4 separate regions of the Homo sapiens genome follow, and regions 1, 2 and 4 are each linked to region 3. The links come from fine-mapping of genetic effects on gene expression. A gene starts in region 3. Each other region holds a variant in brackets. All regions are shown on one strand. Distances are between the middles of the regions. Region 1 overlaps ZNF618 (zinc finger protein 618). Region 2 has its middle 94 kb from the start of ZNF618. Region 3 holds the start of ZNF618 (zinc finger protein 618). Region 4 overlaps ZNF618 (zinc finger protein 618).

The links. PIP is the estimated chance that this variant, and not a neighbour inherited with it, causes the effect.
Region 1: its variant is the best candidate, but not a certain one, in a credible set for the expression of ZNF618 in whole blood (TOPMed, PIP 0.56).
Region 2: its variant is the best candidate, but not a certain one, in a credible set for the expression of ZNF618 in whole blood (TOPMed, PIP 0.68).
Region 4: its variant is the best candidate, but not a certain one, in a credible set for the expression of ZNF618 in esophagus mucosa (GTEx, PIP 0.72).

Annotation. Positions count from the first base shown.
Region 1 is chr9:113,894,274-113,902,266 of GRCh38, forward strand. All of the region lies in intron 1 of ZNF618 (zinc finger protein 618), which reads left to right. Among named protein-coding and RNA genes, the nearest start is that of ZNF618, 22 kb to the left of the region's middle. The variant G/C (reference allele first, on the strand shown) is at 5,123.
Region 2 is chr9:113,778,151-113,786,143 of GRCh38, forward strand. No RefSeq gene overlaps it. Among named protein-coding and RNA genes, the nearest start is that of ZNF618, 94 kb to the right of the region's middle. The variant T/G (reference allele first, on the strand shown) is at 3,976.
Region 3 is chr9:113,872,405-113,880,397 of GRCh38, forward strand. ZNF618 (zinc finger protein 618) reads left to right here and starts at 3,905. Exons shown (of 15, transcript NM_001318042.2): 1 at 3,905-4,009. The coding sequence starts at 3,977. RefSeq lists enhancers at 1,328-1,828, 1,829-2,329.
Region 4 is chr9:113,903,967-113,911,959 of GRCh38, forward strand. The region is part of intron 1 of ZNF618 (zinc finger protein 618); the gene reads left to right. Among named protein-coding and RNA genes, the nearest start is that of ZNF618, 32 kb to the left of the region's middle. The variant T/G (reference allele first, on the strand shown) is at 2,822.

The DNA.
Region 1 (7,993 bases), 22 kb after region 3:
AAACACCTTTTCAATTTATCCATCCACCTGACTGACCATTACATATTTGTGCCAACTATGGGCAGTGACCCTTAATAGGTGCCAAGGTGCTGAATCAATATGAATTTTGTTCACAGCCTTCTGGAATGTGCTGTAGAAAGTTCAGCGCTCTCAGACTGATTGTCAAGGGTGGTGGAGGGAAAGATGAATCTTGGTAAAGGGAATCCAAGGCAACTTCTTGAGGGAAGTGTCATTTGCACTTAGCTTTGTATTTGTAATTGTAAATGTCTTGAATTTATAAAATGACTTGGATAGGACAATATTATGTTTTTTCCACCCGGTAACATGGTCTGTTTCTTTATTCATTCACGCTCCTTTATATGACTCAAGTTTTGGAGTTTTCCAAATAAGTTTTGAGCACTTATTTTTAAGTTTATTCCTAGATATTTGATATTTTTGACCGCAGTTGTGACTGAGATCATTGCCCTCATTGAATATTTTGCCTAATTAATGTGGGTACATAGAAAAACTACTGATTTTTATGTGATTGTTAAGTTAGTGGATAATTTATTGTATTACCTTCTTAGTTCCAACAGTTTCTTGTGGTTTCTAGGTAGGCAATAATATCATATGCAAATAATATTCATTTCCCTTCATCTTTTACAATATTGTACTTTTTTCTCTTATATTATGCATTGACTAGACCTCCTGGAACAATTTGAATAATAACAGGGATAACAAGTATTCTTGTATTATCTTATTTCTTTTCTTAGTGAGAAGGATTCTAGCGTTTTGTAATCAAGTATGATATTTTATTTTGGTTTCAGAAATGTATATTTTTTATCACTAAGCATCCTTCTGAGTTGCTAAGAGTTTTTTATTTTTAAAATTTGTGAAGATGGAGGTGAGTGATACGATAGAGGAGTGATTTTCAATTTTCTGTATTTGAATTTTTCTTTTGCAATGGAGGTTGAATCATTCCCCTCCCCCACTATAAAGCTATTTAGTAATAAGAGGGGGTAAAAGGATGATGAATTTTTAACAAATGCCTTTTTATTATGTACCCAGATGGCCATATGGTTTTTTCCCTTTGATCTGCCGATGTGATGAATTATATTAATAGATTTTCTAATATTAAACTATCCTGGAAGGAACCCATTTTGTTTATGGTGTTTTTATTCTTTTAATGCATCCTGGGTCCAATTTGCAGCGTTTTGTGTCTATATCCATTAGTGAGATTGCCCTGCAGTTTTATTTTTAGTGTGCTGTTTTTGTCATTTTTTAAGGGGGTTATGCTAGTATAGGGGTTATAAATTAGAAAGCTTTCCAGTGATCTGAAACATGGAGGATAAATACATTTAAGATTATGTACTTATTGGTAGTGGTCGCTGAGATTGCTGTGTTGAGAAGGATTCTGAGGCCTTGTCATGTGTAAACAATTTAGTGTTTTGTAAGAGTGTAGGAAATGAGGGTTTAAGTGTGCATGCCAGATGTTTATTTGTAGTCCCTGCTTGGAATGATTTATATTGCACGGGAATTATCTTTTCAGAGTTTAAAATAACTTGCCATTAAACTCTGTCTTGTCAGGTTTTTGGAGATAATTATTTTCTACTGTAATCCTTTCTTCAATAACATTTTGGCTTTTGCTCTTTTCATGCCCGTTTTGACCATTTATATTTTCTGAGAAATGTATTCATTTCATCAAGAATTTGAACTGTATTTGCATAGAACAGAATATAATGTTATTTTAAGAATGTCCTCTGTATGGTTCTATTTCCTAAACTGATTTTTTTTGTAGTTGTATTATTTTTTTTCTTTATTCCTTGGTTGAATGACTGGTATTCAGGGAGTATTTTGTTGATTTCTATTGTTTTATTCTTTCCCCCTTAAATTTTTAAAGTTACTTGTCAATTCTAACTACTTCCAAGTTATTATACTTTTATGGTAAGTAAGCCCACCGTTCTGCTTTCTTTAGATTTTTAAAAATTCTTGAGTGAAAGCTTGGCTCTTTATTTTTCTGTTTAGTAATAAAAGTGCTGGGTTAATCAATGAATTTTCCTCTGAGTACATCTTTGGTCACTTACAGATGTGTAAGTGTAGCCTAACGATTATTTAAAAGTATAATTTAAATTTCTGTGTTACTCCTTTTCAATAAGTGCTTATTTTTATTCATTTTTAGTTTATTCTGTTATGAGAAACATTACCAATAATAGTTTTTGCTTTTTGTAATTTATTGAAATTTTTGGATTCCTTTTAAATATTAATTTGTGGAAATGTTTCATCTGCTTGCGAAAGAAGTAATTTCTGTTTTTAGGATTTATTTTTTGCTTGTATTCACACATTACATAAGCCACTTTTATATATCATTGACTTTATTAATTGTATTTTTCAGATTCCCCATAGGGCCTTAGATATATTATTAAGTTTTTCTAATTATTTCAAGAAATTGAGAGCCTGTTAATGTCTTCTAATATTATAATATTTCTTTTGATTTTACCATTTGCTTTATATGTTTTACTTTATGTATTTTATTACTAGGTCATTTAACAGAAGTATACCTGCCTGCTACATTTTATTATGGGTTGTACCCTTAATCTGTAAAAATAGGCCCTCCTTGACCTGTTTTATGCTTTCTACTTTCAGTTCTGGATTTTCTAATTTTTATAGTTCATTTCCTGCTTTTACCTTTAATTCTAGAGATTTTTATGAAAGCACTTCCTGCTTTCTATTGTTGGAATTTACCTTGTATAGATTTACATGTTTATTTTACTTTTGCTTGTTCTGTGTACTTAAAAAATAGCTACTATGTATTTCTTTTGGATATCATGCTTTCTTATACTTAAAAACTCAGAGTCTTGAGATCTGTGTTTTTTAATATGGAACTTACCCCCGTTTATATTTATTATCATAACTGATGTGTTTTGTTTCATCTAATTACAGTTTTTCCCCCTATGTACTAGTACAACTAAGAAGATGTTTTTGATTCCTTCATATATGAATGGCAGTTTGGATAAATATAACATTTTTGGGTTATGCATTTTATCCTTCAGTACTCAAGAGATGTTCTGTAGTCTTATGTTATTAATATTTTAGAAGATAATTTCGAGGATACACGATATTTTGCTTTTGTGCTTAATTCTGTTCCCATCCCCAGCCTTCCTGAATGCCTGTATCACTCTTTTTTCACCCTTGAAATTTGAGGCTTATTCCAGCCTCTATGTTTTAATGCCTTTTAATTAGTTGCTGGGAACATGGCATGTACTTTCAGTCTACAGATTTCTTTCTTAATAATAGGAAATGTTTTGTTCCATATGTCCCATTGGTCTCATCTTTTTAAAATGGTAGTTATCTCTATATATCCATATACCCCTATTGTTTGCCTTCCGTAATTATCTTTACTTTTGGTTATTTTAATCTCTTTAAATTTTTTTTAGTTTTATATGTGTTTCCCCAGCTTTTCCTTTGCATCACTTACTCGGTTTTCTGCACTGACAGTTCTGCCCTTTACTGCTTTGGATACTGGATTTCGTTTTTTGTTTTGTTTTGTTTTGTTTTGAGACGGAGTCTTGCCTTGTTGCCCAGGCTGGCTGGAGTGTGGTGGCACGATCTCGGCTCACTGCAACCTCTGCCTCCCAGGTTCAAGCAATTCTCCTGATTAGCCTCCCGAGTAGCTGGGATTACAGGTGCCCACCACCATGCCCAGCTAATTTTTGTATTTTTAGTAAAGACAGGATTTTTCCATGTTGGGCAGGCTGGTCTTGAACTCCTGACCTCAGATGATCCACCCGCCTCAGCCTCCCAAAGTGCTGGCATTACAGGCGTGAGCCACTGTGCCTGGCCTCTTAACTGGTTTAATGGTGTTATTTGATTCCTTGCACTTTTCATTCCTAGAGCTTCTCTTTCTGTTTCACTCTGTTCTTGTCTTTAATTTTACTGAGCACACAAAGGAGTGTGTCTTAGATGTCTTTCTGTTTTCCAGAGTAACACTGTGCTCTGTATGTTTCTTCTCTCAATCTTGAGCATGATGCTTAACTCTATTTTTGTCACTCCATTTTGTTTCCTTCGCCCTCCCCCTGTTTGCCTCATTTATTCATTCAAAATAAGGGAAGTCTCGTGTTTGGCATGTTTGGCTTGGCCTGGTCTATATCCTAAAATGATGTCAGTAGCTGCTTCCTCAGATTTTTCGTTTTTTTTTTTTTTTTTTAAGAGATGGGGTCTTGCCTTGTCACCCAGCCTGGATCATATCTCCCTGCAGCCTTGAACTCCTGGGCACAAGCAATCCTCCTGCCTCAGCCTCCTGAGGAGCTGGGACTACAGGTGTGCACCACCATGCCCAGCTAATTTTTAAATTTTTTGTAGAGGCGGGGTCTTGCTATGTTGCCCAGGCTGGTCTCAAACTCCTGGCCTCAAGCAATCCTTCTGCCTCAGCCTCTGGAATAGCTGGGACTGCTTCCTCAAACCTTGAGTGGAAAGAGGAGGGCTAGATGTTACACATTTATAGATCAGCGATGCAGCAGCCCGGGGTTAATGAGGTGAGGCTGAGACTGTAGTTACCTCAATATGTGGTTCTTTCCTTTGGCTTGGTGAAGCTGCGCTGGGAAGTGCCCAGTGGTTTATGCTCAAGATTCTTTCCTGGTAGGATTGTGGGGTGGGTTTGAAAGCCCTAGCTGGAAGTAGCTTAGCTTCTCTTGGCATTCCCTGTAGGTCCTGTCACCTTGGTTTTCCTCTTACCAGCCTGCCTCAGAGTCTCCAGGAGGGTGGCTGTGAGATGGTCCCTCATGATGTCCCGTGATTTGTCCCCACATCTGTAACATCTAGCGGAAATTCCTCAGTAGGTGGCTTGTGCATGACTCCTTTTCTAGATTTTAAGACCTTTTTTCCCTAGTTTTTTTTTTTGTAAAGTACACATATTAAATTTACCATCTTAACCATTTTAAAGTACAGTTCAGTAATATGAAGTACATTCACATTGTTGGGCTACCAATCTCCAGAACTCTTCTCATTATTCCAGGCTGAAACTCTATGCCCATTAAACAGCCACTCCCCATTTCCCCTTCCCCCAGTCCCTGGTAGCCTCCATTCCACTTTCTGTCTGTGTGACTTAGATCAGGGGTCCCCAGCCTCCAGGCTGCAGACCAGTACA[G/C]GTCCGTGGCCTGTTGGGAACTGGGCTGTATAGCAGGAGGTAAGCCAGCATTACCTGAGCTCTGCCTCCTGGCAGATCAGCAACACCGTTAGATTCTCATAGGAGCGCGAACCCTATTGTGAATTGTGCACACGAGGGATCTTGGTTGCGCTCCTTAGGAGAATCTAATGCCTGGTGATCTGAGGTGGGACAGTTCCATCCTGAAACCATCACTCCCCCCACCTCTGTCCATGGAAAAACTGTCTTCTAAGTAACTGGTCCCTGGTACCAAAAGGCTGGGGACCGCTGACTTAGATGACTCTAGGTACCTCATAGAAGTGGACTTACACAGCATTTGTGTTTTTGTGGCTGGCTCGTTTCACTCAGCATAATGTCCTCAAGGTGCATCTGTGTTGTAGCACATGGCAGGTTCCCTCTTTGTTAAGGGTTGAATAATACTGTCATATGTACCTACCACATTTTGTTTATTCATTTGTCTATTAATGGATATATCAGTTGCTTCCACCTTTTGGCTGTTATGAATGATGTTGCTATGAACATGGGTGGACAAACAGCTCTTTGAGACTCTGCATTCATTTTTTTTTGGTATGTACCTAGAAATGGAATTGCTGGATCATATGGTAATTCTGCATTTAATTTTTTGACAAACTGCCATTTCTATTTTTATTTTTTTATTTTTTGAGACCGAGTCTTGCTGTGTTGCCCAGGTTGGAGTGCAGTGGTGTTATCTCGGCTCACTGCAACCTCTGCCTCCCAGGTTCAAGTGATTCTCGTGCCTCAGCTTGCTGAGTAGCTGGCTGGAACTACAGGTGTGCACCAGCACACCTGGCTAATTTTTGTATTTTTGGTAGAGATGGGGTTTTAACACGTTGGCCAGGCTGCTCTCGAACTCCTGACTTCAAGTGATCTGCCCACCTCGGCCTCCCAAAGTGCTGGGATTACAGGCGTGAGCCACCATGCCTGGCCGACAAACTGCCACTTTTAAATGCGATTAACCCTAACAGTTTTTTGCACAGTAGTTAACCTCATCACTACTTTGGGTGGGCTGTACAGGGATTCTTTCCTTCATCTTACAGATGAGTAAACAGGCACAGAGAGGAAGGGGAAAAGTGACTTCTTTGAGGTGAGGCAGCAACCCAAGAGAACCTGGCAGAGCTGAGGCCAGAACCCGAGCTCCTGTCTCCTAGCACCGTCCTCTCCCGCGAACCCGAGCTCCCGTCTCCTAGCACCGTCCTCTCCCGCGAACCCGAGCTCCCGTCTCCTAGCACCGTCCTCTCCCGCAAACCCGACCTGCTGTCTCCTAGCACCGTCCTCTCCCGCAAACCCGACCTCCTGTCTCCTAGCACCGTCCTCTCGCGCAAACCCGACCTCCTGTCTCCTAGCACCGTCCTCTCCCGCAAACCCGACCTCCTGTCTCCTAGCACCGTCCTCTCCCGCAAACCCGACCTCCTGTCTCCTAGCACCGTCCTCTCCCGCAAACCCGACCTCCTGTCTCCTAGCACCGTCCTCTCGCGCTAACCCGACCTCCTGTCTCCTAGCACCGTCCTCTCCCGCGAACCCGACCTCCTGTCTCCTAGCACCGTCCTCTCCCGCAAACCCGACCTCCTGTCTCCTAGCACCGTCCTCTCGCGCTAACCCGACCTCCTGTCTCCTAGCACCGTCCTCTCGCGCTAACCCGACCTCCTGTCTCCTAGCACCGTCCTCTCCCGCAAACCCGACCTCCTGTCTCCTAGCACCGTCTTCTCCCGCGAACCCGAGCTCCTGTCTCCTAGCACTGTCCTCTCCCGCTGCTGCGAGAGAGCGTTTGTTGCACTTGAGGGTCTAAACTTTGTCTCCAGTTCTCCTCAGGGCAGAATCTCTCCTTTTCCTCAAGTTCTCCTGCGTCGTTGGGCCTCAGCGTCTCCAACATTTAAAACGGGCATCTCCTTGCCCCGTCTCCTGTCTAGGCAGCTGTTGCTCTCGCCCTTCTCTGTGCGGACTTGGCCAGCCCGGTGCTTTGCCAGACACTTGCAGGGAACTGCTCTTGCGGCTGAGCTAGCATCTGCTTCCCCATCTGGTCTCAACTTTTTTCTTAATTACCCACTGAATTGGCTCTAACAAAATGCTGACAACTTGAACGAGACATTAGCTGATACATCAGCGCCCGTGCCAGGGCCTCATGGGCTTTTCCGGGACATGCTAAACCCGGGCCCAGCAAAAGACCTTGTTCCCTGGCCAGAGTCCCCATTCTAGCTGAGTGGAAGCTCCAGCCAGGGGACAGGGTTATCACGGGGTCTCGTAGCTCATAAACGCCACTGCTTCGTGGCTGAACTAAGGCTTACAGCTTCTTAAGTGGCCTGGTGGCTGGGTCCCAAACCTGCAAGCAAGTTTTGTTCTCTCTCCTGCTGCCTCCTTGGTCCCTAATCCTCTGAGTCTTTTATTCCAAACTCCTGTTCTCCGGACTATTTCTGTTTTGTTTTGTTTTTCCTCTGCGTGTCTAACTGGTCTTGAAGCTGGGATACTAAGTGTGTCGCAGTGGGGGGGACATCGCGCTGAGCATCTGTGGCCTTGAGGTGCCTCTTCATGCCTTTTTGGGCCTGTTTTTGCATCTGCATAAAGGGGTCCAATGCAGTGCAATACAGACTCTCTTTCTGACTTTCTGTGATTCTGAGAAGAAATGGCAGTGCTTCCATTTTCTCAGCTAAGTAGGGTAAGAACAATCAGAAGCTGCCTACGTGAGGGTGGAGAGTGCAGACACCGGAGTTCGCCAGCCTGGATTCAAGTCTTGCCTCTGCTCCTTCCTCCCTGTGTGGCTCTGAGCAGTTTGCTAAACCTCTCTGTTTCGTCTTTGTAAATTGCAGGGTCAGGGGCTGGTTCAGAGAACCCCATGTG
Region 2 (7,993 bases), 94 kb before region 3:
GTGCTTATAAGAGGAGGAAGAGTATAGTAGATTGCAAAATTGACCCCAAATTCCTCCCATCCCTAAAATCGTATGCATTTGCAACATGACGTTAACTCGCCTCTCATCTAGAGGTAGAGTCTCTCCCCTGGGGGCTTTGGGTGCAGTCATTTGAATTGGTCACTGAGGCCTTGGCAAATGTGGCACAAGCAGAGGCTTAGAAAGGACGCTTGGGAACCCTGAAACTGACCATGTGAGCGAGTCTGATCTAGCCTCCTTGATATGGGGAGAGCCAAATGACAGATTCTCCCACTCACTCTAGCCAATATGTGAGTGAGGCCATCCCAGACCTCTCAGCCCCCAGCTGACCCACTACCTGACTGTAGAACTATCTGGTTGACCCAGAGACTCTGGAACAATAACAAAATAATTCTTGTTTTCAGTCACTGGTTTTGGGGTGGTTTGTTATGCAGCAAAAGCTAACTATTACAAGTAGAGTCAAAAAAGTATCTAATTAGAAATAATTGAGATCAACGAGTAAATGGAATTTGCTTTTCAGAAACTCATTGGTTAGGTGACTTTGCCATAATGTAGATATATCTCTTGACACAAGGGCCATCTGTGTGAGTAGAAATGTCTGAAACATAGTTGAATTGTCTGTCAGGCTTTTAGCCAATTTAATCTACAGAAATGCATGTTATGTCCAGAACAATGAATTTTAATGCTTAGGCTGCTAAATGCAAAAAGAAATGTAAGCCATATTTACACAAGTGCTGTGTTCCCTGAAGATCCTGCAGGTCCTCCTGGAGCGGAGGCTGGCTGGGGACATCACTGGTGTTCTTTCTCTAGGAAAGGTGACTGTGATCCCTGGGAAAAGCAAAGAAATATTCAAGCCTTATTTAGAGCCCACTTTAATATTACCTAAAAAGCACGATTCACAGGCTTTGATGTCTTGGCTGAGTAGAAATAACACTTCCCTCATCAAAAAAGTTGTTTGATCCTTGAATTCTGTTTTTTTTTTCTTTTTAGATATTAACTCAGAGCATTTCAGTCTCCCCTGGGTATGAAGTGATGAAAGGGGGCAGTTGATTTAGGGAATAAAGTTATTTAACTTCATTATCTTTGCAGCCCTAAAAGGGGGGCACTGTCCCTTTTCTGTTGGCAATTGCAGGGAATTGCCTGCCACCATCGCCACACAGCCCCTGGACAGTTGTCACATGATCTCACACATGGTAACAGTTCTTCTGTCCTCCAGGACCCTGTGTATTCACATGATGACCAGAGTGATCTTTTAAAATGCTGAACCATGTAATTCCCCTGCTCCAAAATCTGCAATAGCTCCCTATTGCCTAGGCCACAGAGACCCATCTCCTTTCCCTGTTGTCTTTGTTTCTTGCTACAGCAAAATCCCGCAAACTGGGTGGCTTAAACAACAGATAATTCAAGGTCTCACATTCTGGAGTCTGAAACCAGGGTGTCAGCAGAGCTGGATCCAGCTCTGAGGCTGGGAGGATCAATTCTCCATCTCTCTTCTAGTCCTTAGGCATTCCTTGGCTTATAGATGGCAGTCTCCCTATGTTGTCACTTCAGCTTTGTCTATCTCTGTGTCCTTCTCATCATAGGACTCAGTCATATCGGATTAGGGCCTGCCCTAATAACCTCATGTTTTTTTTTTGTTTTTAAGAGACTGGGTCTCACTCTGCAATGGCACGATCATAGCTCACTGCAGCCTTGAACTCCTGGGCTCAAGTGATCCTCCCGCCTCAGTCTCCCAACTAGCTGGGACTACAAGTGTGTACCACAATGCTCAGCTAATTTTAAAAATTTTTTGTAGAGTCAAGGTCTTGCTACGTTGCCCAGGCTGAAGTACAGTGGCCCAATCATAGCTCACTGGAACTCTGAGGCTCAAGCAATCTTCCTGCCTCAGCCTCCCTGTTAATTTTTTTTTTTAATTTATTTTTTGTAAAGACGAAGTCTCCCTATGTTGCCCAGGCTGGTCTCAAATTCCTGGGCTCAAGCAGTCCTCCCACCTCAGCCTCCCAAAGCATGAGATTACAGGCATGAGCCACCACATCCAGTCTAATGTTATTTTAACTTGATGATTTTCAAAGACCCTATTTCCAAATAAGGTCATATTCACAGGTACTGGGGGTGGGGCACAGAACTTCAACATCTTTTGCGGAGGGACACAATTGCGCCCATAGCAACTGTGTCTTAAGGCCCTTCGTAGGCTGAGCCCGCACTCTCCACCCTGGAACAATCCCTGTGCCTTCACAATTCTGGCTCCAACATCATCAGGCATCGTTATTTATGTTTGAGTTCAAATTTCTCTTCCGCAACCTATTAGGTCACTTACCTGCTCTGTGCCTCAATTTCTTCATCTTTAAAATGGGAATAAAAATAATACCCACCCCAGGGCAATTATTTGGAGGGTTAAACGAATTTATGCAAACAAAACCCTCTGAATAGTATCTGGCTCAAAATTGTTCAGTGAAGATTCTTTACTATTATTTTTATGTTTTTTGAAGTTCTCCTTCTTTTCTTCCCATCCAATGAGTCTCACTCTTTTGCTGTCCCCAGATAGGAGGCTGGGGCATCCCCAGGTCACACCGCAAGTCCACAGCATTAAACCCCAGACCTCTTCCCTGAATCCAGCACTGGTTCCACTGCCCTCCACCACCCGCCCTGCCCCAGGCCTCCCCTGAACATTCCGCACGCTGCCCACACTCTTTTTCTTTGGCTCCTTTCTGCGTTCCCAAATGGTTCCAAGGTTGAGCCATGAAAACCTTCCTGTACTTAAAAACCTAGCTTCCAATCTGAGCTAAATGTGCCCTAAGTGTTAGCAGCCGTCGTTCTTTTATGTGTTAATTTGTCACTGGGGATACGGAAGGGATGGGAAAAGCGTGGAGCACTAGAAAATGGTTTGCCTCGGTCTTCATCAGCATCCTAATTATTCCACACCTTTTAAATAGAGGAAGTATTAGCATTCCTAAACTGCGTAGGGGTCTGATTGAAATAATGTCTCCTGAATTACTTTTCCATAAACTGAAAAAATAAATAAATAACAGGGAAGCGCCCCAGACACAGCCTCCTCCTGGGCTTGTGCCTGGCTGGGTCTTAGGGGAGGTGCATGAGAGGAGAGTGGCCGGGCTGTGGCTGCATTTGACCCACTGAGGTCAGGAGATATCTGTTCTCTCTGTTCCTACTCCTCCCATCCTTCCACATTATGCTCTTTCCTCTGGGCCCAGCTCATGTGAACCCTCCTCCTTCAGGAAGCCTTCCTTGACAGCATCCCTTCCTGGTTTCCACCAGTCTTGGCTTTTGGTTCTCTTGAGTGAAACTCCTGTTGCTCTATGCAGGTGGCCCTTCCAACTTGGGTGCTAATAGCTCAAGGACAAAGCCTCTTTGGAACTTTGTCTTGTCCTCTGTGTCACCGCCGGCACAAGCCCTGGCCCCCAGGAAGGTCCTGCTATACAGCTATTTACCTATGTTGGCCAAATGGTAGACAGCCTGAAGTCTCAGTGTGTCACAGCCCCTCCTACTCTCTCCCATTCCAGCCACCTCTCCAGATGACTACTCCAGAGGACTCAGCTAGCATCAGTGAAATGGAGAGTGGAGCTTCAGATACAAGGAACATTTTCCCAATAGCCAGTGGTCTCATCACAGAATGAGCTGCCTTATAAGATACAAGGTTCACCGCCCCTAGGAGCTTCAGAGCAGCAGATGGGAGGCCCTCTGTGTCTCCAACGTCCCATGGCTCCAGGTCCCGTGACACTAGAGTTCCATTCTATATTTCATGTCATTCTTTGCAAAGGAAACACCAGTCCCTTTTATTAGCTCCCAGACCATGCATTAAGAAGGAAATCTGTAGCCACTTTGTTAAAGTTGGTACAAACAGAACATCTCACATTTCAGAGCTGTCACTCCACTGAGAGTCATTCACATAAACAACGAGGTCCTCGTGGGTTTGATGGCAACACAAACACCACTTGTGAC[T/G]CAATTAAGGAAGCAGTAATTAAAAAGGGGGAACAGCATGCAGTCTCTCCGATCGTATTTTCCCACTGAGGCCTGGGCCGCTGACGGGCAGAATCTAGGGGACTTATGGGGGATCTTTGCTGGGGCCTGTGCCCCTGCTCTGGCCAGAGCTTGCCCAGGGTGAAGTGGGGAGAGAGAGAAGACATGGACACATGGGCCTTGACCTCAGCTAGTGACCCATCTCTCACACCAGCAAGCGGTGTAAGTTAATAAATTTTTTTTTTCTAAATTAACCAAGTGTACCTAAGGAGAAAACCATTGACCCCAGAGATTAGTCACAGTGTCTTGGTTCTCAAATAACCATAGTCAATATCTTTTATTTTTACTATGTTCCAGGCATTAAGTCATAACAACCCCATGACACAGCTACCATTATTAGCTCTATTTTTCCAGATGAGGAAACTGAGGCACAAGCGCAAGGTCTTTCAGCTAAGAAGAGGCAGAGCCTGTATTTAAACACTGACAGACTGGCTCTAAAGCCCACCCTTAAGCACCGTAATTAATTTGCCTCTTACTTTCTGAAATGCTCTTTCCTGGCCCTGGCCCTCCTAATAGTCAGCTTTACCATTTTTTAAACACTTACTGTGTTCCAGAAACTGTGCTGTGTACTTCCTGTGGAGGATCTCATCTTATGAAGTATGTTCTGTAATTATCTCCATTTTACAGGTGGGGAAACTGAGGCTCTTGGAGATTAAGTGCCATTCCTCACCTAGCTAAGTGACAGGGCCTGGAATCAAATCCATATCTGCAACTCCAAATATTCCATCCTGCATTTCTTACTCCCACCTGTGAGTATTGGAAAGCCAAATAGTGGACTAACAGGTATTTTCCATTTGTTTGTTGGTAGGATATCGGTGTGGGAAGAGAGGACACAGTAAGATGCTCCTGTCCTTGAGGGTTGCTATAGACTGATTTATGTTCCCCCACCCCCCACCAAATTCATACTTTGAAGCCCTAATCCCCAATGTGACTGAATTTAGAAATAGGAATTTTAGGAGGTAATTAAGGTCATAAGGGTAGGGCTCTAATGCAGTAGGATTAGTGGCCCTATAAGAAGAGAGAGAGAGAGAGATCTTCATCTCTCTCTTTCTGTCTCCATGTACACCCACCAAAGAAAGACCATGTGAGCACGCAGCCAGAAGGTAGACATGTGCAAGCTAGAAAGAAAGCCCTCATCAGAACCATTCTGGTACCCTGATCTTGATCTTGAACTTCCAGCCTCCAGAAATGTAAGAAAACACATTTCTGTTGTTTAGCAACCCAGTCTATGGTATGCTGTTATGGCAGCGGAGCTGACTAATCCAGGGGTATTTCTGAAGCATTAAGGCCAATGTATGGTGGCAAGCAAGGAATATGGCTGAGCCATCATCCGTTCTATGGTTGGATAGATGGATGCATGAATGGGTGGATGGATGGGTGGATGGGTTGATTGGATGGATGAGAGATGGCTGGTTGTTTCAGTGGGTGGATGGATAGGTAGATGAGTAGATGGGTAAACAGATAAATAGATGAATAGGGAGATGGATGGATAGATGAATAGATGGATGATGGATGATTGAGTGAGTGGATGGATGGACAGGTAGATGGGCAGATGGATGAACAGATAAACAGATGGACAGATGAATGGGTGGATAGATGTGGATGGATGGATGGATGGACGGACAGACAGATGGAAAGCTGGGTATACTTGTTATTCACCCAGAGTTAGGGGCAATGCCCCTGGATCAACACTGCTCTGGGGACTATTCCAAATCCATCTTGGTAGCTTTTCCCACAATTGCCTCTCAATTTTCATGGATGACTGAGAGCATGGAGAAGAGTCTTCATGGGTGTCAAAGAATCTGGATGTTTCTCCATAAGCTGTTGCTCAGATTGCATGATCAGTGGATTAACATCAGTCCCATCCCCACCAGGCAGCTCTGACTAACACAAATACGCAGAACAGCCGCATCCTGAAATTACTCCAATGTATGCTTTCAATTCTACAAATCACATCCCCTGAGTTCAGAGCAGGATGTTGTTTGGGAAGATTAACAGCTGTGGGAATCATGCTGGGGGTTCTGGATCCAGGCTTACCTGAAGGCTTGGCAAATATTCTGTACACCTATTGTGCACTGGTTCTGAGAGGGGTACTGGGGACAGAGGTGAACAGGACCCCATATCACACTGGAGGAGTGCTAAGTCTGGGAGTGATTTATGAAGCCTCCTCCCTCAATCCTCAGAGGCTCAGTAGGCTCATAAATGTCCCTGTTGACCCTCACCTCCCACCCCCACCTCACCTAAGCAAACTGCAGGAAGACAATTCCCTCCTTGCACAGGGAACAGAGCACCAAACAAAGGGGAAGGGAAGGCAGTGTCCAGGAGGACAGCAGACTTCAAAACAAAGAATGCTCAAGGGCCATGTCCAAAGGGCTGAGTAAGAGGAAGAGAAGGAGCAACACTGGATCAGGAAGCTAGAGTAACTTTTAGTTTCTGGGGAGGAGTAGTGTGGGGCAAGGTATTGGTTGGGTAGAGACAAGAAGCTTAAACAGAAGGCAGGGCCCAAAGAAGCAAGCAGGCAGACAGAGTGAGCCACTCTTCAGAGCACCAGAGACGTGGGGCAGGCAGGGAGGACCATTGAGACAGAGAGTGGTAACCACGGCGATTTGCTGAGCACCATGCACCCGGCCACTGTGGCACGCCACACGTGTAAGATGAAGTCCAAAAATGCTGGTAAATCTTTTAGCCCAGTGCCAGGCCCAGGGAAAGAACAATCCTATGGAATGGGCTGTATCTTTCCTCTTTTTTCATTTAAAATAATATATTAAAGGTCAGAGAACTAGAGTTTCAAGCCCTTGGTCCTACCACAAATGGGCCAGAGCCACAATTCCTGCCTAGGTCTGTATGATCCAAGGGCTGTGCCCTTCACCCCTAGTTTTGCTACCTTCCAATTAGAGCTCTGAAACTGACAACATCCACCAACATCTCTGGGTCAACATCAATTTCCTTGTCTGAAAAATGGGTTGTCTAGGGATTCAGGGTTGAAGGAATCAGTGTGACGAAGAAGTATTTGTCAAGTGGGGTGCATTATGCAAGTTTGTGGGGTGTGGCTGCTAGTTAGAGGCAGCGAAGGGAGGAAACAAGGGCAGGAAACATTGGTATAGCTCTTAGTATATGCCAGGCACTGCTCTGAGTACCGTTCATGATATGAACCCATTCAATCCTCACCTCATCCCTAAGAGTGGGGGAACTATGATCATCTTCATTTTACAGGGAACCAGAGGCACAGGGCATTAGGTAACCTTCCCAGTGTCCCACGGCTGCACCCGCAGAACCAGCTCCCACACTTGGCCATCTGCCTCAAGGCCCAAGCTCTTCCCCACTCCAGGCTGCATGGCACAGCAGAAACGCAGGCCTGGTGCCAGATAGGCGGTGAGAAGCCTGGCTCAGCCTAATAGTTCTGTGCCTTTTGCAACTCACTGAAACTCTCTGGGACTATTTATCTCTAAAATGGAGATTTAAATGCAAGCACCCAGCTCACTGGGCCTATCAGGAGGATTTTGGGACGTGATGTAGGCAAAACACTCAGTTCCATGCCTGGCACATGTAAGGGCTAAATGAATGGCAGCAGCTATGATGGTGAGGAGGAGGAGGAAAAAAAAGGAGAAGGAAGAGGAGGAAGAAAAGGAGGAGGTGGAGGAAAAGGAAGAGGGAGAAGAAAAGGAAGCAGAGAAAGAAGAGAAAGAGGAGGAGGGGAACGTGGACACCCACTGCCTACTCAGACTTGTTATTTCCGGCCTCTCCCTTGGCTTAGATGAGCCAATCTGCCATGTCAGCCAAAGGCAAGAAGGGCCCAGTCACCCACAGTTCCCATGCAGGGGGCTTCTCTCCCGCATTTCCCCCTGACAGCCCCTTCCTTGATCCCAGCAGCTCCCAAAGCCCCAAGTATAAGAAGCCCCATAAACAAATCCATTGAAGGCAAGGTCACCCTTTGGGCCTG
Region 3 (7,993 bases):
ATAAAATGATGTAGTAATGCTAGTCCTGGAGGCAGTGGGCTAGGCATGGAAGGAGTAAAAAGTTTCCAGAATTTGATAAACTCAGGCACGCCGAGTTGAACCACAGACCCTCAGAAGATGGGAGAGCCTGTGGGTGTCCCTCCCGGACCACGCTTCCACCGATGTGAGCATCTGTTCTTCCACACCCCTGACCAACAGTCATTTTTCCAACGCTGTATCACAGAGCCTGCTCCATCATAGAGCAGGTCTGGTCTTGTCCCCTGGGCGATCACAAAATATGTTGGCTCCTCCACCCACACACCCTCCCCCTTGAAGCTCTGCCCAGAGCTCGCCTGGTGTTTGTAGGGGTCCTCCCCTTCTCTTGGCTTCCCCACACTGGTCACAGTGTCATTGCTCTCGAAAGTGAGGGGGCTAAGATATGACCACAGTGCACCTGATGGGACCATAGCCACCTCATACAGTACCTAGCCACTTTCTTGGGCAGGTCCTCAGGACACTCCAAAAGTTCCACAAGGTGAGTATGCCCTCAGTTAATTCCTGAATGGAGACAAACCACAGCTCTGAGTGATTGCATAGTTTCTGCTGTGGTTTGGGAAATATGTGGGTTCATTTATAAGCTGGATTTTGTCAGGAAGACTTCAAGCTCAGCCATTGTCCCCTGAGGATACCCTTCATGGCCCATCTGATACAGAATGAAGAAAGGAAGCACTCTTCAAGGCCGAGACCCCTGGGGAGGAGATGCCTCTATGGTCGAGATGTGCTGATAGAAGGCCCAGCTCCTGGGACCCATGGGTGGCGAAGAAACGGAAAGGGCTTGCAGTGATTCTAGAAAAAGAAGGCTGAGAAGGACCATGAGCTTTTATAGGCCAGAGGTGCCTGAAGACAGGCTGTGGATTATTTCAGGTTGGTGGTCACTGATGCTCTTGAGTGAAAGCCACAGATTTTCTCCCCCAAAATGCACATACAGACATACATTTGGTTAAGGAGTAGTTCTTGGTTCCCCAAACCAATGCAAAGTCCCCATTTAAGAATCCCTGCTCTAGAGAGAAACTTCCATCTAATTAAGACCCTCCTGGAATCTTCGCTGACCCACGCCCGGGCTGGGTAGGACCCTTCCTTGAGCTGCACTGAGCACCTCACTGTTGGCACTGTACTGCAAAGGTTTGAAGAAGGTGGCCCTTAAACCAGCAACATCAGCATCACCTGGAAACGCATTAGAAATGCAAACTCTTGGTGCCTAACCTAGACCAAATGAATTCAAAACTCTGGGGTGGGCTCAGCAATCTGAATAGGCTCTCCTGCTGATTCCAAGGATCACTTGCATTTGAGAAGAGCTGCTGCAAATAGTTCTCCTCTTCATGGTGTGTGTCTGTCCTACTAGATACAAGGCACCTGGCACATAGTAAGTGCTCAAATGAATAATTATCGTATCAAGTTTTCCCGACTCCCAGGGCAGGAGTTTTTCCTTGGTACCATACAGCTTTCAGCTGTGGTGACTGAGACCCCATGTCATTTTGGATCTAGTTTCTACTCTAAGGCCTAAGATCAGGCTTGGCTCTACTAGGCAGAGGCGGGGACCCGGCCTTGAGGCAGGTGCCCAGAAACCTTCACACAAGGATCGAGCCAGACAGACATCAAATCTGGGAGCATCTTTCCAGGTAACAAGGCCCCAACCACCTGGTGGATGAGGGGCAGGTGGACTAGGGGCTGCCTGCCCAGCACATATGCTCAGGGCTCACAGGACCCAACTCTGCCATGCTCTGCAAGCTGCCCCTACTCACCTTGGTGCCTGCTGCACACCAGCCTGGGCAGAGGCTGCCAAACCTCTGGCAGGGACATACTTACCAGGTTGGTGGGGAGAAAAATGGCCACTTTCAATTTCAATTTTTAAGGAATCTCCAACTTTTAGGGGTCTGGGAGGAAGTGGTTAGAAGACTCCTCTTTTTTTTTTTTTTTTGAGACGGAGTCCCACTCTGTCACCCAGGCTGGAGTGCAATGGCGTGGTCTCGGCTCACTGCAACCTCCGCCTCCCGGGTTCAAGCAATTCTCCTGCCTCAGCCTCCTGAGTACCTGGGACTACTGGCTGGTGTGTGCCACCACACCTGGCTAATTTTTGTATATTTAGTGGAGAAGGGGTTCACTATGTTGGCCAGGCTGGTCTCCAATTCCTGACCTCGTGATCTACCCGCCTTGGCCTCCCAAAAGGATTATTTGCGTGAGCCACCACTCCCGGCCAGAAGACTCCTTTTAACGTCTTGTGTTATGAGTGTTTGTTAAGGGGGGCAAGAGTTGTGTTTCTTAATTTCATGTCTCCCATATAGGGCTAAACTCCCAATTTAACTTATTAGGGAAAGGAGGTGTCTTCTACACAGTGCCTCCGTTTCCTAAAATTTTAAAAATAACTTTTTTGAGGATTGTAGGGAAAACATTTCTGTAACCTTTCCTGTCTCATATTGCTCCAGTTCTTTAAACATTACAAAAAAGAACATTTGATTTTTGAAGGTGGGGGCAGAGAGAAGATACCTGGTTACTCTTAATTTCCAATGCTTTTATTTTTGAAAAGTACCCTTGCAGTTTTCTTTTGGGGAGGGGCAAAGAAGGATTTCTGTTCACCTTGCATCTCATAGAAGAGCAATTCTTAACATTTTTATTCCAAAAATCAACCAGTTGTGGGAGATGTAGGATGGATCCAGTAATCCCTCCTTGTCTCTATAATAGGGCAGGTCCTTCATACTTTCAATTTTTAAAAAATCGGATTTTTTAGGAGAATAGGGAAGAGAATAGAAAAAAAAATCCCTTTTAAACTTTCCCAAGTCACAAGGAGGCAGTTGCTCAAGTTAAAAAAAAAAAAACAACAATAACAACAACAAAAAAACTGGCTATTTTGGGGTGTTGGAAAGAAATATCCTGGTTCACGTTTTATTTCACATGCAAGTTTCTCAAATTTTCCTTCTCTAAATCAACCTAACTGGGGGATATGGGGGTGGGGGGCGCTAATATCCCTTAACCTTTAACCCCTCTTGTCTTACTGTAGGACCAGTTTTTCAAACTTTTATTTAGAAATACATATATATATTTTAATTTGGCAAGGATAGGCAGAAACAGCCGCTTCACTGGCATTTCACATAAAAGCGGCTCCTCAAGTATTTATTTTAAAAATCAGTCTGGCTGGGGGGCTAGAGTCCCCTTAACCACTCTTGTCGGACATGGGGCCAGTCCTTCAAACTTTTATTTTATTACATTAGTTTTTTTGGGAGGAGTGGCAGGGCAATAGAATATTCCCAATAAGCCTTCCAGTCTTCCAGCAAGCCAGCTCTTGAAAACTTTTATTTCAAAAATCAATCTGGTTTTTTTTTGGCGGGGGGGTACAGCGGGGTACAGAGTTCCCATTAACCTCTTGCGTTCCGCCGAGAGCCGGCTCCCTGAACTTTTTTTCCAGCGTGAAAATGACATTTCCGAGGGGCTGGGGGACTGGGGGAGGGCAGAAGGGAGCCGGGGAGCGGGCGCGGGGGGCGCGGGGAGGGCAGGGCGCGGCGCGGGAAAGTTTGGGGGGGCGGGTGTGCCGCGGCACTGGGGCTGGCGGACGGGAGGGCGGGCGCGCCCCTGGACCGGCCGGCTTTGTGTGCCACGCGGAGGCCGGCAGCGCGGAGGCCGAGGCCGAGGCCCCGAGCTCGCGGGCCGCACGGCGAGGCCGGCCCGGGGGCGGGCAGGGCGGCGGGGGGCGGCGGCGGCCCCGCGAGGGGCGGCTCGGCGGCAGCGGCTGCCGCGGCGCGGCCGGTGCGGGCCGGGGGTGGGGGCGAGGGCCGGCGCCCCCCCCGCGCGCCCCCAGCGCCCCCGCCCCCCCGGCCTGAGCGGGGCGGGCGGAGGAGGGAGCGGCGGCGGCGGCGGCGGCGGCGGCGGCGGCATTGTGCGCGCACCAGCAGCCCGGCCCGGGAGGAGCAGGACGCGCCGGGGCCGCCTCCTCCCGCACGGACCCATGAACCAGCCGGGCGGCGCGGCGGCTCCGCAGGTACGACGGGGGGCCGGGGGCATGCACCGCGCGGGGGACCCCGGGGGGCCGGGGCCCGGGGCGCTGCGCCACTTCATTGCAAGATTTGCAAAATGCAAAGTGCCTGGGCACGTTTGCGGGCTTTTTGTGGGCGCAATCGGGAGGGTCGGGGTCCGGAGAGCACCCCCCCGGGCGCTGCGGGGTGCGAGGAGGGTGGGGGTGACGAGGGGGTCTTTTGGGGCCCCCACCCAGCGCCCCCTCCGGCCCCGGGCTCGGACCGGAGCCCAGAAAACAAAGCGGCGAGAGAACAGAGCAGCCATTTCAGTTTGGACAATTCACATTTTGCAAAAATGCAACCCCTTCCAGCTCTGCCCCCTCCCCCCCAAATTTGCAATTTTCCCCTGACCCTCTCTGCGCTCGGGGTCCCCGATGACCCCCCGGGAGGTCTTTCCCCCCAGGTCCCCCATTTTTGCAACAATCTTTTTTTTTAGGCCATATTTTCCTTTCTCAATTTTTTTTTTCTAATTTTTCTTCAAACGGTAGTTTTTTCCCATTAAAACGACGCCACCTAGAGGATACTATTTTGTAAATAAAAAAGAAATTAAAATTGAAAAGAAATATTTTTTATTTCTTATTTTTTCAAAAGTTTGCACTACCAGGCAGTGGAGGGGTAAGAGATTCTTTTTTTTTCTTTTTTCGGGTGAAAATTTTCACTTTGATCTTTCCAGAAGCATGGAGACAATTTTTATTTCTGAAGCCAAATCCAGATAATATGTAAATGAAAATTAAGCTGGAATTTGAATGAATTTAGTTCTTGGAGGGGAGAAAGCAAAAAACCTCCTAAAAGCAAAGTCAGTTTGGGTACCCAACTCATTTTAGTTTGAGAAAAAAACTAATTGGAATAAAGAAAGGAGGGAAATTGTTGAGTTTAGGGAAAACTGAGAGAATTGGCTTTATGAAGCAATTAGAAATTGTACTTCATTGTAATTTGGAACTTGTTTAGCTCAGCGGGCAAAAAAAGACTAATTTCTCTATATGGCAATATTTAAAGTTTTTCTATTTCCACGAACGAAGGATTTAAAAGAGAAAATAGAACCTAAAATGTTGGCTTTGGACACACCCAAAAATTGTAGTTTTTTTTTTTTAATTTTGCATTTACATTTTACTGCATTTAAATCCTAAGATTCTAAAGAAAACAGAAACTAGAAAAGTTACAGTGAAATCCTTTCTTTCTTTTTTTCTGTATTTGTTGGGTTTTGTGTGTGTGTGTGTTTTTTTTGTTTTGATGGAATAATTAAGACTGTTTTCTGATTTTGTTTCCTGAAAGGTCTAGGCATTTCTTTTTTGTTGTTGTTTTATCCAGAAAATGTCAGGAACCTTTTTTGAGCAATATTAAGTGGAAAAAATGTAAATTCATACATTATACAAATTGAGTAGCCCACAGATTTGTAGGAGAGACCGCCATTAAAATAAGATATGCATAATTAACATTATTATGAAAAAACTAACAGTGGATTCACAGAAGCTCATTTTTTATGACATGCAACTGAATCAATTGATGAAGACAAGGATTGAGGAATCCTTGGTAAGGAAGAAAATTTTCCCTTTTCTGTCTTGTTCACCCTTCCAATTTGAAAAATTTATTACTTAAAAAAAATTTAGATTGGTTTCAGGCCTCTTTGATTGTGATGTGGGGTTGGTAGTTTATCAATATTTGTTATTTTTCAAAAACCTGATTACTTTCAAAGGGGGAAAAATCCATTAGCCTTGATCATTTTGGGGGGTTTGTGACCAAAAAAAAAAAATGCACAAATTTTACTGACTTAACAAGAAAAAGATAAAAGAGGGATGGGCAAAAAGGAGATGAAAATTCTGATTCTTATCCATCTTCCTTGGTAGAACACTTACTTTGCTGAAGAAATGTGATATAACACCAACTCAGCTGGTTTTAGCAGCAACAAAATAAAGGAAAAATAATCAAAATACAAACAAAAGCCAAACCCAAGGTTTGCCTTTGGAATATGAAAGCATATATGCAAACAATATTTCATGTGGAGGTTTTGGCCTTAAAATGAATCACATGAAGGTGAAACAAAAAAGAAAAAAAAATTTAAGAAGGCAAATAAATATTGACCGAATTGAAATTTGACAGATGAGAATAAAGTACCCACCCAAAGATGAAGCGTTTTGTGATAAATTAGTATCTAATTGAACTTGCTGGGGATTTTGAGCCTATCCCCCAAAAGTTACAATTTTTCTGTCCAAAAACAGCATATTGTTAGGACTTGCAGGGCGGGATCTTGGAGGGACCTTGGATTGGAAATTGATGGTGGGTCACCTGGGGCAAGAAAGGAAACCCTTTGCTCCTTTTGCCAGCCACTAGCTGGTCTTGGGAAAACTGGTGGCCCCAGTCCATAGATTCCCAACCCTGTTTTGTGGAAATTTGGATGTTTAAGTGGAATAAGTCAAATATATTATCTCTGTGAAATATATTTGACAATGGCAGAGGTTTGACATTTCCCATCATCGCCATTGCATTTGGGAGATTTTATTTTTTTAGTAACGAAATCCTTCAGGGCTGACTGGTCACATTCTGACATATTTGGAATGAGCTTTTTTTTTTTTAAGTAGCATAATTAAAAAAATTTTTTTCTGTTGAATTATTTAGGCCGATGAGTAGGACGGTCAAGGAATTTATAATTTCCAAGGGGCTTTGGAGGCCTCATGAGGCAGAAGGCCTGAGTTTAGCAGTGATGAAGGAGAGATGGGCTGGGGAGGGGTGGAGGGGGGTAGGGGCATCTGAGAAAAAGTCAGGGTTGTAGATAACAGGTTATTTCTGGTGCAAGGAATAAAAATATTGCAGCACGTCCCTTTGTGTGGCCTGGATCTCCTGACACACAATTCAGCTTCCTTCATTCCATTCTGCTGAAATTTTGTTCTGTTGTCTATGGCTAGAAGTTGAAAATCATTTCTGGTTTTGTAGAACTGTTTTTTTTTTTTTTCTGTTTTTTTTTTTTTTTTAAATTGGTTATTCTGATCATGTTTGTTGTAAAGGAAGTAGAGGTGCATGATGGTTCTATTGGGGGCGGGGCCAGTTTTCTTTTGTTTCTATTGGTGTCTCTCTCTGGATTGAGATCTGACCTTGGCCTTGGCTCTCTCACCTCCTATTTTAGGTGGACGTGTGACCAGAAATGGACATGTGAGCTAATTTTTATTAGCTCCTGTCTGTTCACCACATTCTCGTAGATTATTGGGCAAAATATCTGGCAAATTGGACTTGGGGGTGGTAATTTGATGATGGGCTGAATTATTTTGGCGAAAGATCGTTTATATTCAGTTTCACAGTGGAGACTCTTATTACTTAATGTTTTGCTTTTCTGCCTAAGGAGGTTTTTTTTTTTTTTTAATTTTTTCTAACAAGGTTTGAAATTTCAAGGGCCTGCTTTATAGTTTGACTTTGGAGCAAGCTAGGAAAAGAGGTTTGCTTATACTTCCAGCTCTGCACAGAGGTGAACTTGAACAAGGGTTCTTGCTTTTGCAGAACGAAAGCAACAAAGATGGCTGGTCAGTATAAGGCTGACCTCTCCCTCGTCCTAGAAAATAAACAGCCAATGGCTTGTTTCACTTGAGAAACTGGGTTTTAAAACTCCTCCAGTGTCAGATACAATATTTTTCTCACTTTTGACTCAGCTCTTGGCATGCTGCTTCCTCTGACCTCAGAATCCTTACGTCTTCTCCTTGGTGGGTGATAAGAACTTCCTTGCCATATATGACTGATGTATATAAGCCGACTTCTCATGGTCATGAGGAAATTTTGAATTTTTTCCATGTTCTTGTGATGTTTTGGGTCAGTTGTACCTTCTTTCTGGTGATGTAAAATGAAGTGGCTCTTTTCAGGAGCCCTAGCCCCCACAAGGTCTTGCTGTGTGACCTTGGACAAATCACTTTTTCCTTCAGAGCCTCAATTTTTGCATTTATAAAATGAACACTTGGGATCAGATCAAG
Region 4 (7,993 bases), 32 kb after region 3:
TATTTCTTCAAATATCTTTCTCTTCTCCCCTTCTTCACCCCTCCTTTTTTTTTTTTTTCCAAGGATTCCAATTGCATGTATATTAAGCCTTTTGAATCTGTCCCATAGCTCATTGATGCCCTATTTTTTCCATCTTTTATTTTTCTGTTTCATTGTTAATAATTATTGCTGTCTTCAAGTTCATCAATCTTTTCTTCTTTAATATCTAACCTCTTCTTTTTTTTTTTCTAACCTATTCTTAATACTACCCAGTGTATTTTTTTAATCCCAGGCATTGTATTTTTCATCTCTAGAAGTTTGGTTTGGGTCTTTTTATATCTCCTGTGTCCCTATAAGGTGATTATGTTTTTTTTCCTCTACCTTCCTGGACATATGGAGTATATTTATGATGGCTGTTTCAACATCCATAAAGTCTATCATATGTCATTTTTGTATCTCTTCCTGTTAATTTTTCTGCTGCTTTCATGCCTAGCAATTTTTGATTCTGAATTTTGATTCTGAATTTTACATTCCTGATTGTTTTAGTGCTGGCAGTTTTGGGGTTTAAGTATTTTTGTGCTGTGTTTTGCTCTGTTATTGGTGAAGTCTTAGCTGTATTTGTTTCCTTTGACTGCTCTAACAAATTATCACACACTTAGTTGCCTAAAACAACACAAATTTATTGTCTTGTAATTCTGGAGATCAGAAATCTGAAATGGGCCTCACTGGATTAAAATCAAGGTGTCAGCCGAGGTTCTAGAAGCCCTAGGGGAGAATCTGTTTCCCTTTCCAACCTTTAGAGGCTACCTACACTCTTTGGCCCATGGCTTCTTCATCTTCAAAGCTAGCAACATTGGGCAGAGTTCTTCTCACGTTGCCCATCTCTCTGGCTCTCTCTCTTCTGCCTCCCTCTTCCACTTAGAAGGACCCTTGCCTTGAGCCCACTCCAACCATCCAGCATAATCTCTCTATCTCAAAGTCATCTGATTAGCAAGCTTAATTGCATCTGCTTGTAGCCTAACACCTTCACAGTTCTGGGGATTAGGACGCACATGTCTTTGTTGGGTACAGGGAGGGCATTATTCTATTATTCTGCCTATCACAGTCATTAAATTACTTGGAAACCGTTTGATTTTTTTTTTCCAAGACTGCCTCGCTCTGTCACCCAGGCTGGAGTGCAGTGGCATAGTCTTGGCTTACCGTAACCTCTGCCTCCTGGTTCAAGCGATTCTTGTGCCTCAGCCTCCTATTGGAGGCACACGCCCTCACACCTGGCTAATTTTTTATTTTTAGTAGAGATGGGGTTTCACCATGTTAGCCAGGCTGGTCTTGAACTCCTGACTCAAGTGATCTGCCTTTGCCTCCCAAAGTGCCTGTTTGATCTTTGAGGCTTGCTATTCAGCCTTGTTCAGCAAGACCAGAGCAACCTTCAGAATAGAGCAGGGTTTGGCAAACTACAGGCCAAATATGGGGCAAATCAGGCTTGCCTTCTGTTTTTGTAAATAAAATTTTATTGGAACACAGATATGCTCATTTTTGTGTACTGTCCGTGGCTGCTTCCATTCCACAACAATCCATAAAACCTAAAATATTTATTTTGTGACCCTTTATAGAAAAGCCTGTAGACCAGGAGTCTACAGTCAAAGTGAAATTTCTCCACTTTGGCTATTGGGAGTGTGAACTGTTCGTAGCCCTGGATGAGCTCTGAGAATGGTTCTGCTTGGTTCTTTCTCCAGCCTCAGGTGCTTTCCTTATACACATGCGCTGATCAGCACTTGGGTGAAGCCGTTGAAGAATTGCAGCTCATTCTCCGCATGATTCTCTTCTCTGATTCCCTCCCTTGCATGTTTCACCTTCCTTGCTCTTCCCAAAGTCTAAACTCATACCTCCTCAACTTCAGGAGACCTCTGAGCTCTGCTTGGTTTTCCCCTCCCTGCCCTGCAGCTTGATCATTCTCCAGGCAGCAAGATGGGACAATCGTAGGACCCACCTTGTTTGCTTCCCTCTCTTAGGGTGTTTTGCCCAGTGTTGCCTGTTATCCAGTGTCTAAAAATCATTGTTTGATATATTTCGATCAGTTTCTTAGTTGTTTAAGGTGGGTGGTGAATCTGGTCCTTCTTACTCCGTCATGACTAGAAGCCACCAGTGCTTCTTGTATCAGTATTATTTTGCATTGATGAGAGTAGTTTTGGAAGATAGCATACCAGAAGAGGCATTGTGGGGTCATAGACTCTGTGCATTTCAAAGATATTACCAAATTGGCCCTTGTCAAGGCTGCGCTGTTTTATATTTCTGAGGGTCTCATTCTCTTAGCAGGGGTTGTGGGGATAGATGATGAATATGAAACTGCTTTGAGCTCCATAAAGTGCTGGGAAGATGCCAGAGGTTATGGCTCTGAAGAAAGGGCTTCTCCTGGCTGTTCCTCCTTTGGCTTAGGGTTTCTGATGGGCATTTCGCTCTTCCATGCTATAGTCAGGTTGTAGGGTCGTTTTAGTCACTGCCATCATGTAGGACTGTTATTTCCTTAGCAAGTGGGGGTGGCTGGGGAGGAGGCTTCCTTTAGACTGCTGCTTTCTTTCCTGACATCTACTGAACCTACAAATGCCACATAATGTTCCAAGTGCTCCGTGGAGTCATTGTGATGTAATTTAATTCTGCACCACAAGCTAGAGAGTTTGAGATGAAATGGAAACTGAGAGAGCTGGTGTGGTTTGCTTAAGGTTAAGCAGCTAATTCCTAGCAAAGTGAGGATTCTTTCTGCCTTTAAACCAAACCTGCCAGTTTATACAACAAACCATCCATTATAGTCAGGACGCCTTAGGTTTTAAGTGACAGAAACTCA[T/G]CTCAAACTTGCTTAATCCAAAAGGGGACGTGTATTGGCATGCCTACTGAAAAGTCCAGGGGTTAGCCAATTTTAGGCATGGCTGGCCCACATATGCAGATGATGTCATCGGAAATGTGCTCTTCTCCATCTCTCAGCTCTTGTTTCCTTGTGGTGACTTCTTCAGGCAGGCCCTCTCCAAGTGGTGGCAGAAATGGCTGTAGCAGCACCATGCTTATTTTTCACCCCCAGTGGAGTAGTCCTGGAGGAAAGAGAGCATCTCTTTTCCAAGGGCTTTAACGGAAGTCCCAAGGAAGGCTCTCATTGGCCCAATGAGGGCCATAGGCTCATCCCTAAGCCGATCACAGTGCGAGGATGGTGTGTTGTTATTATTGGATGGCCCTGGGTTATTTGATTCTCTTGTTGGAGTTGGGGGCTGGGGATAGCCCATTGACACCACTTAGGTTGTGGGGACCTGAAGGGATGAGATAGTTCTGTACTGTAAGATGGGATGCTGAGGAGGCAGAAACAAAACTGTCCACTGTATCCCCTTTGGCCTCTAGAGCAAGCTCACCCACTCTGGCCCTTGCAGCTCCAATTGTTCATGGTGTTCACAGGTCTGCTTGGCCCCTGCCCTGGTGAGTTTTTTCCTCGCCTGGCTTGACAGTGGCATTCTGCCCTCCCACTTGCTGGCCGTTCACTGTTCTCTTGCCACCCCGGGCAGGGACTTTCCCAGGCAATGAGGCTTCCTGGATCTTGTTCCCTTTTGCTGAATCCTTATCCAATAATCAGAACCAAGAAACCCAGGCCCAGCAGGCTGAGGACACCTCCACACCACCTCTTTCATCATGAGTAGGCAAGCGCTTTCCAGAGGGTTGTCCAGGACCCCCCCGCATGAGAGGCCCCTGGGGCCACCTGTAGACTGGTGTTTCTGCATCGCTGGGAGGTACAGTTGAATGTCTAACCAACTCCCCAGGCAATGCTTCCACACGGAAGGTTGAGAGCCACAGTTAGATGACTGTCCTCAAATGAGCTGGGGTTTTCTTTCAAGGACTCTCTTTCCTTCCGATGGGGTTGTTTGATTTATCCTGATTTTAGGATTCCCCTCCTTCCCATGAGAGCTGCCCCCTTCAGAATCATGGGGGTGTCACTGTGAGAGCTTGAGTCTGCAGTGTGGGATCCCTTTCTCAAGAGGTCAGCATGATTATTTTCCATCTAGTGCTTTGTGGGTCTCAAGACTTAAATTGGGAGGAATGTTAAAAACAAGGATGACGCACAGTGTGCCTGCATTTCCATGAAACAGTGACACCCAGAGCCTCAGCAGGATGGCTCCTGAGAACTGGGAGGCTCGGGCAGTCAAAAGAATCTTCATGTCTTGAGCCTTTGGCTTGGGAAAGTTCAGTGACTGATGTAACAGCACATTTCACTTGTTCGTAAGTTAAGACCCTAACATTTATAGAGAAAAACATCATCTTTACCCACTACGAGATTTCAAAAGCCTTTTTAGCTAAAGAACTCTTTCATAAATGCAATCTCACACAGGTGCTCAGGATGTTAAATACATAGATAAAAGCAGTTTAAAAAAATGGAGGAGGGAGGACCATATTATGACTTTTGTGGGCCTTAGGCACTTTTGTCTTCGTGGGCTCCTTCCTCCATACAAAAATATTAAAAATTATTTTGTATGACTGCATTGGTGTAGACATGAATATATTAATATTCTATGTTATACATTTTTTTTTGACCTGAAAGTTCATCTTTTAAGTTCTGATTTTAAAAGGAATGAAAGCATTTTTGTGGGTCTCTAAAAGTTTCTCGGGCCCTGGGTGCTGTGTCTGATGGGGAAGTCAGCCCCGAGGCAGCAGGTTCCTATCTGCTTGGCCCCTCTCTGGTTGGCCCCTCAGGCAGCTGGAGGAACCCAGTTTGAAGACCGCTGTGCAGAGTTATCTCTTGCCCCTTCTCAGGCTCTGCTTCTGCCTCACTGGGGAGTGAGGATCACAGAATCACAAGATACCATAATAAGGATGGAATGTCAAGGCCATTCATACCCCAGCCACCCTCACCCTCCAAGAAACAGGTCTTGCCCTTCAATCTCTGAAGTGCCATTCTTGCTAAATGATCATCTTTCCTGCCTCTGCTTGGGCCCCTTCTGGGGACGGTGATTTCATGACTCTGTTTTAGTCCTCCTTTTTAGTCTCCTATGGGGCTTCAGTAAGTTCCTGGGTCAGTCGCCATTTATACCCCAAAGCCGGTGAATCCCTTAGTGGCCAAGTCATTGCTGAGCTGGGATAGGAGCCAGGAGTCTGGGGTTCGAGGCGCAGCTCTGCCCCTCGGCTGCTGTGGGACCTGAGCAAGGACACTCTCTCTCTCTCTGAGCTTGAGGTGCCTCATTTGGAAAAGGAATGGGTTGGAGGGAATGGTCCTGTCGCCTGTTGCAGTTGTATGCAGTGATGCTAATGGAAGATCGAGGCATGTCCCGGCCTGATACCTGCAGCTCAGGTCATTCTGGGACTTGTGGCTCTTGCTTGGTGGTTGGGGGCTAGAGGCCTTGTGTGTCCCTGTCCCCCTGGGTCTGGGTGGAGTATCGTGACTGGGACTTTGACCACAGATGTGGATAAGGAAGGGGAAAAATCAGGTGGCTTCAGACCATGGCTGCGCTCTGTATGTGCTACGAGGCTGCAGATGGACTTTTCCTGAGATTTGTTTAGGGAAACTTGGGTCTGTCAGGGCTCAGTGGGCAGCTGTCCAGAAACCTTGGGGTGTCATGTGATGCCCACTGAGGTTTGGGGAGAGGGGAATGAGGGTGGTGACTTGCTTTCCTCCCTGGGACTTGCTAGCCCAAGCTTGAAGGTGCCACCGTCTCAGGGCCTGGGCTTGCTTGGGGATGGGTGGTGGCTCCACAGGGTGGAAATGTTCATTCCTTTCTCCCGAGTCCAGCGCCTCCTGGCCTCTGGTGCTTGCATGCGGATGCTCCCATGCTGTATCCCGCTCCCCGATACTCACAGCCTAGCCTTTTTTGTTTGTTTTTTTTTTTTTGAGACAGAGTCTCGCTCTGTCACCCAGGCTGGAGTGCGGTGGCGCGGTCTCAGCTCACTGCAACCTCTGCCTCCTGGGTTCAAGTGATTCTTCTGCCTCAGCCTCCCGAGTAGCTGGGATTATAGGCGTGTGTTACTATGCTCGGCTAATTTTTGTATTTTTAATAGAGATGGGATTTCACCATGTTGGTCAGGCTGGTCTCGAACTCCTGACCTCAGGATCTGCCCGCCTTGGCCTCCTGAAGTGCTGGGATTACAGGCATGAGCCAGTGCGGCCAGCCTAGCCTATTTTTATGAACTCACCACTCCCCGCCTGGCTGCCCCTTATCCCTGCTATACTAAATGGCTCTCCTAGATACACCTTGATTTTCCACCTCCCCACTTTGCTCATGCTGTCTCTCCTGCTGAGGCAGTTGGTGCCATGGCCTCCCAGACCACAGAAAGAGAGTAGGGTGCAGGATGAGTCTCCATTTCTGGCCTCTAAGTAGGGGAGCCTCCTGACCAGCCAGCTTCTAATTCCAGGTCTGTGTTTGTTCACCTGGTTCCTGCTCTTCACTCTGTAATTATTGATTCCTGCCGAGTCCACTTAGCTCGAGCCAGCTGGGGTGGACCTGCAGCCCAGCATCAGCTTCCGGGGCTTAGAAGTTCCTGGAAACAGTGACTTATTATTGGCCTAATAACGAGCGTGTTCCTGCCAGCCAGGTGTGTTCAGGTGTGCGCGGCTGCTGTGAAGGACGTCTTCATGGGCATGCATTTATTTTCCTTTCGCTTGGATCTGGCTCCTCAGGGTTGTTTCCTCTTCCACCATTACATTTTTACTTCAGTAATTTGTCCAATTATCTACCAGGGACAATATCACTTTCCTAAAGTGGTTCATCTGAAAGCCCTTTTCTCCATCCTCTCTCCTGTCCTTCCTTCACACCTGTGCTCAGGGCCCGTCTTCCCGTCCCAGCTGACAAGAGGCTCAGAGCCCAGCCTAGCCCATATCTGAATGAATTCCAAGTTAGCATGGAACTTTCTGCTTTTTCTTTTTTTCTTTTTTTTTTTGAGATGGAGTCTTGCTCTGTCGACTAGGCTGGAGTGCAGTGGCACAATCTCAGCTCATTGCAGCCTCTGCCTCCCAGGTCCAAGTGATTCTCCTGCCTCAGCCCCCTGAGTAGCTGGGATTACAGGTGCCTGCCACTATGCCTGGCTAATTTTTTTTGTATTTTTAGTAGAGATGGAGGTTCACCATGTTGGCCAGGCTGGTCTTGAATTCCTGACCTCAAGTGATCCGCCTGCCTTGGCCTTCCAAAGTGCTGGGATCACAGGAGTGAGCCACCGCGCCCGGCCTGAAACTTTCTGCTTTCTAAGCACTGTCTTAAAACACAATTAAACCAAGTTTGTTTTTCTTTGTTATAACAAATAGCAAGTGCTCTTTATAGAAAAAGAAAACACAGAAAAGTATGAGGAAGAAAGAAAATCACCTAGAGATCCCTACTCAGATGTTGACACTTTTGACATTTTGAGCTTTTTTCCAAGTATTGTTTTTGTTTTGTTTTTTTGAGATGGAGTTTCACTCTAGTCACCCAGGCTAGAGTACAATGGTGCAATCTCGGCTCACTGCAACCTCTGCCTCCCAGGTTCAAACGATTCTCCTGTCTTAGCCTCCCGAGTAGCTGGGATTACAGGCACCTGCCACGATGCCCAGCTGATTATTGTATTTTTAGTAGAGACGGGGTTTCACCGTGTTATCTAGGATGGTCTCGAGCTCCTGACCTCAGGTGATCCGCCCGCCTTGGCCTCCCAACGTGCTGGGATCATAGGCGTGAGCCACCGTGCCTGGCCGGTATTGTTTTTTCTTTACTAATAGGTGGGATGGATACAAATTCTCTCCTGATTTTTTTAAAAAAGCTCAACATTATAAGATTCCTGTTTCCCAGTGTTATTGCAAGCCTTGAGGGTTTTGACTGCGGGTATTCCATGAGGTGGCTGTACCCTCGACAGCCCAACAGTGGCCTGTTTTGGGGGATGTTTTGCTATTTACAGGTTTTCCTTATTGTAAATATTGCTGAAAAGAATATCTTGTAAGTGAATTCATTTTCATGTTTTAGATTGTTTCTCAGACTTTTCAATCTAGAAGGAGTCTTGTTGATCACCCAGACCACTTCTTTAGTGT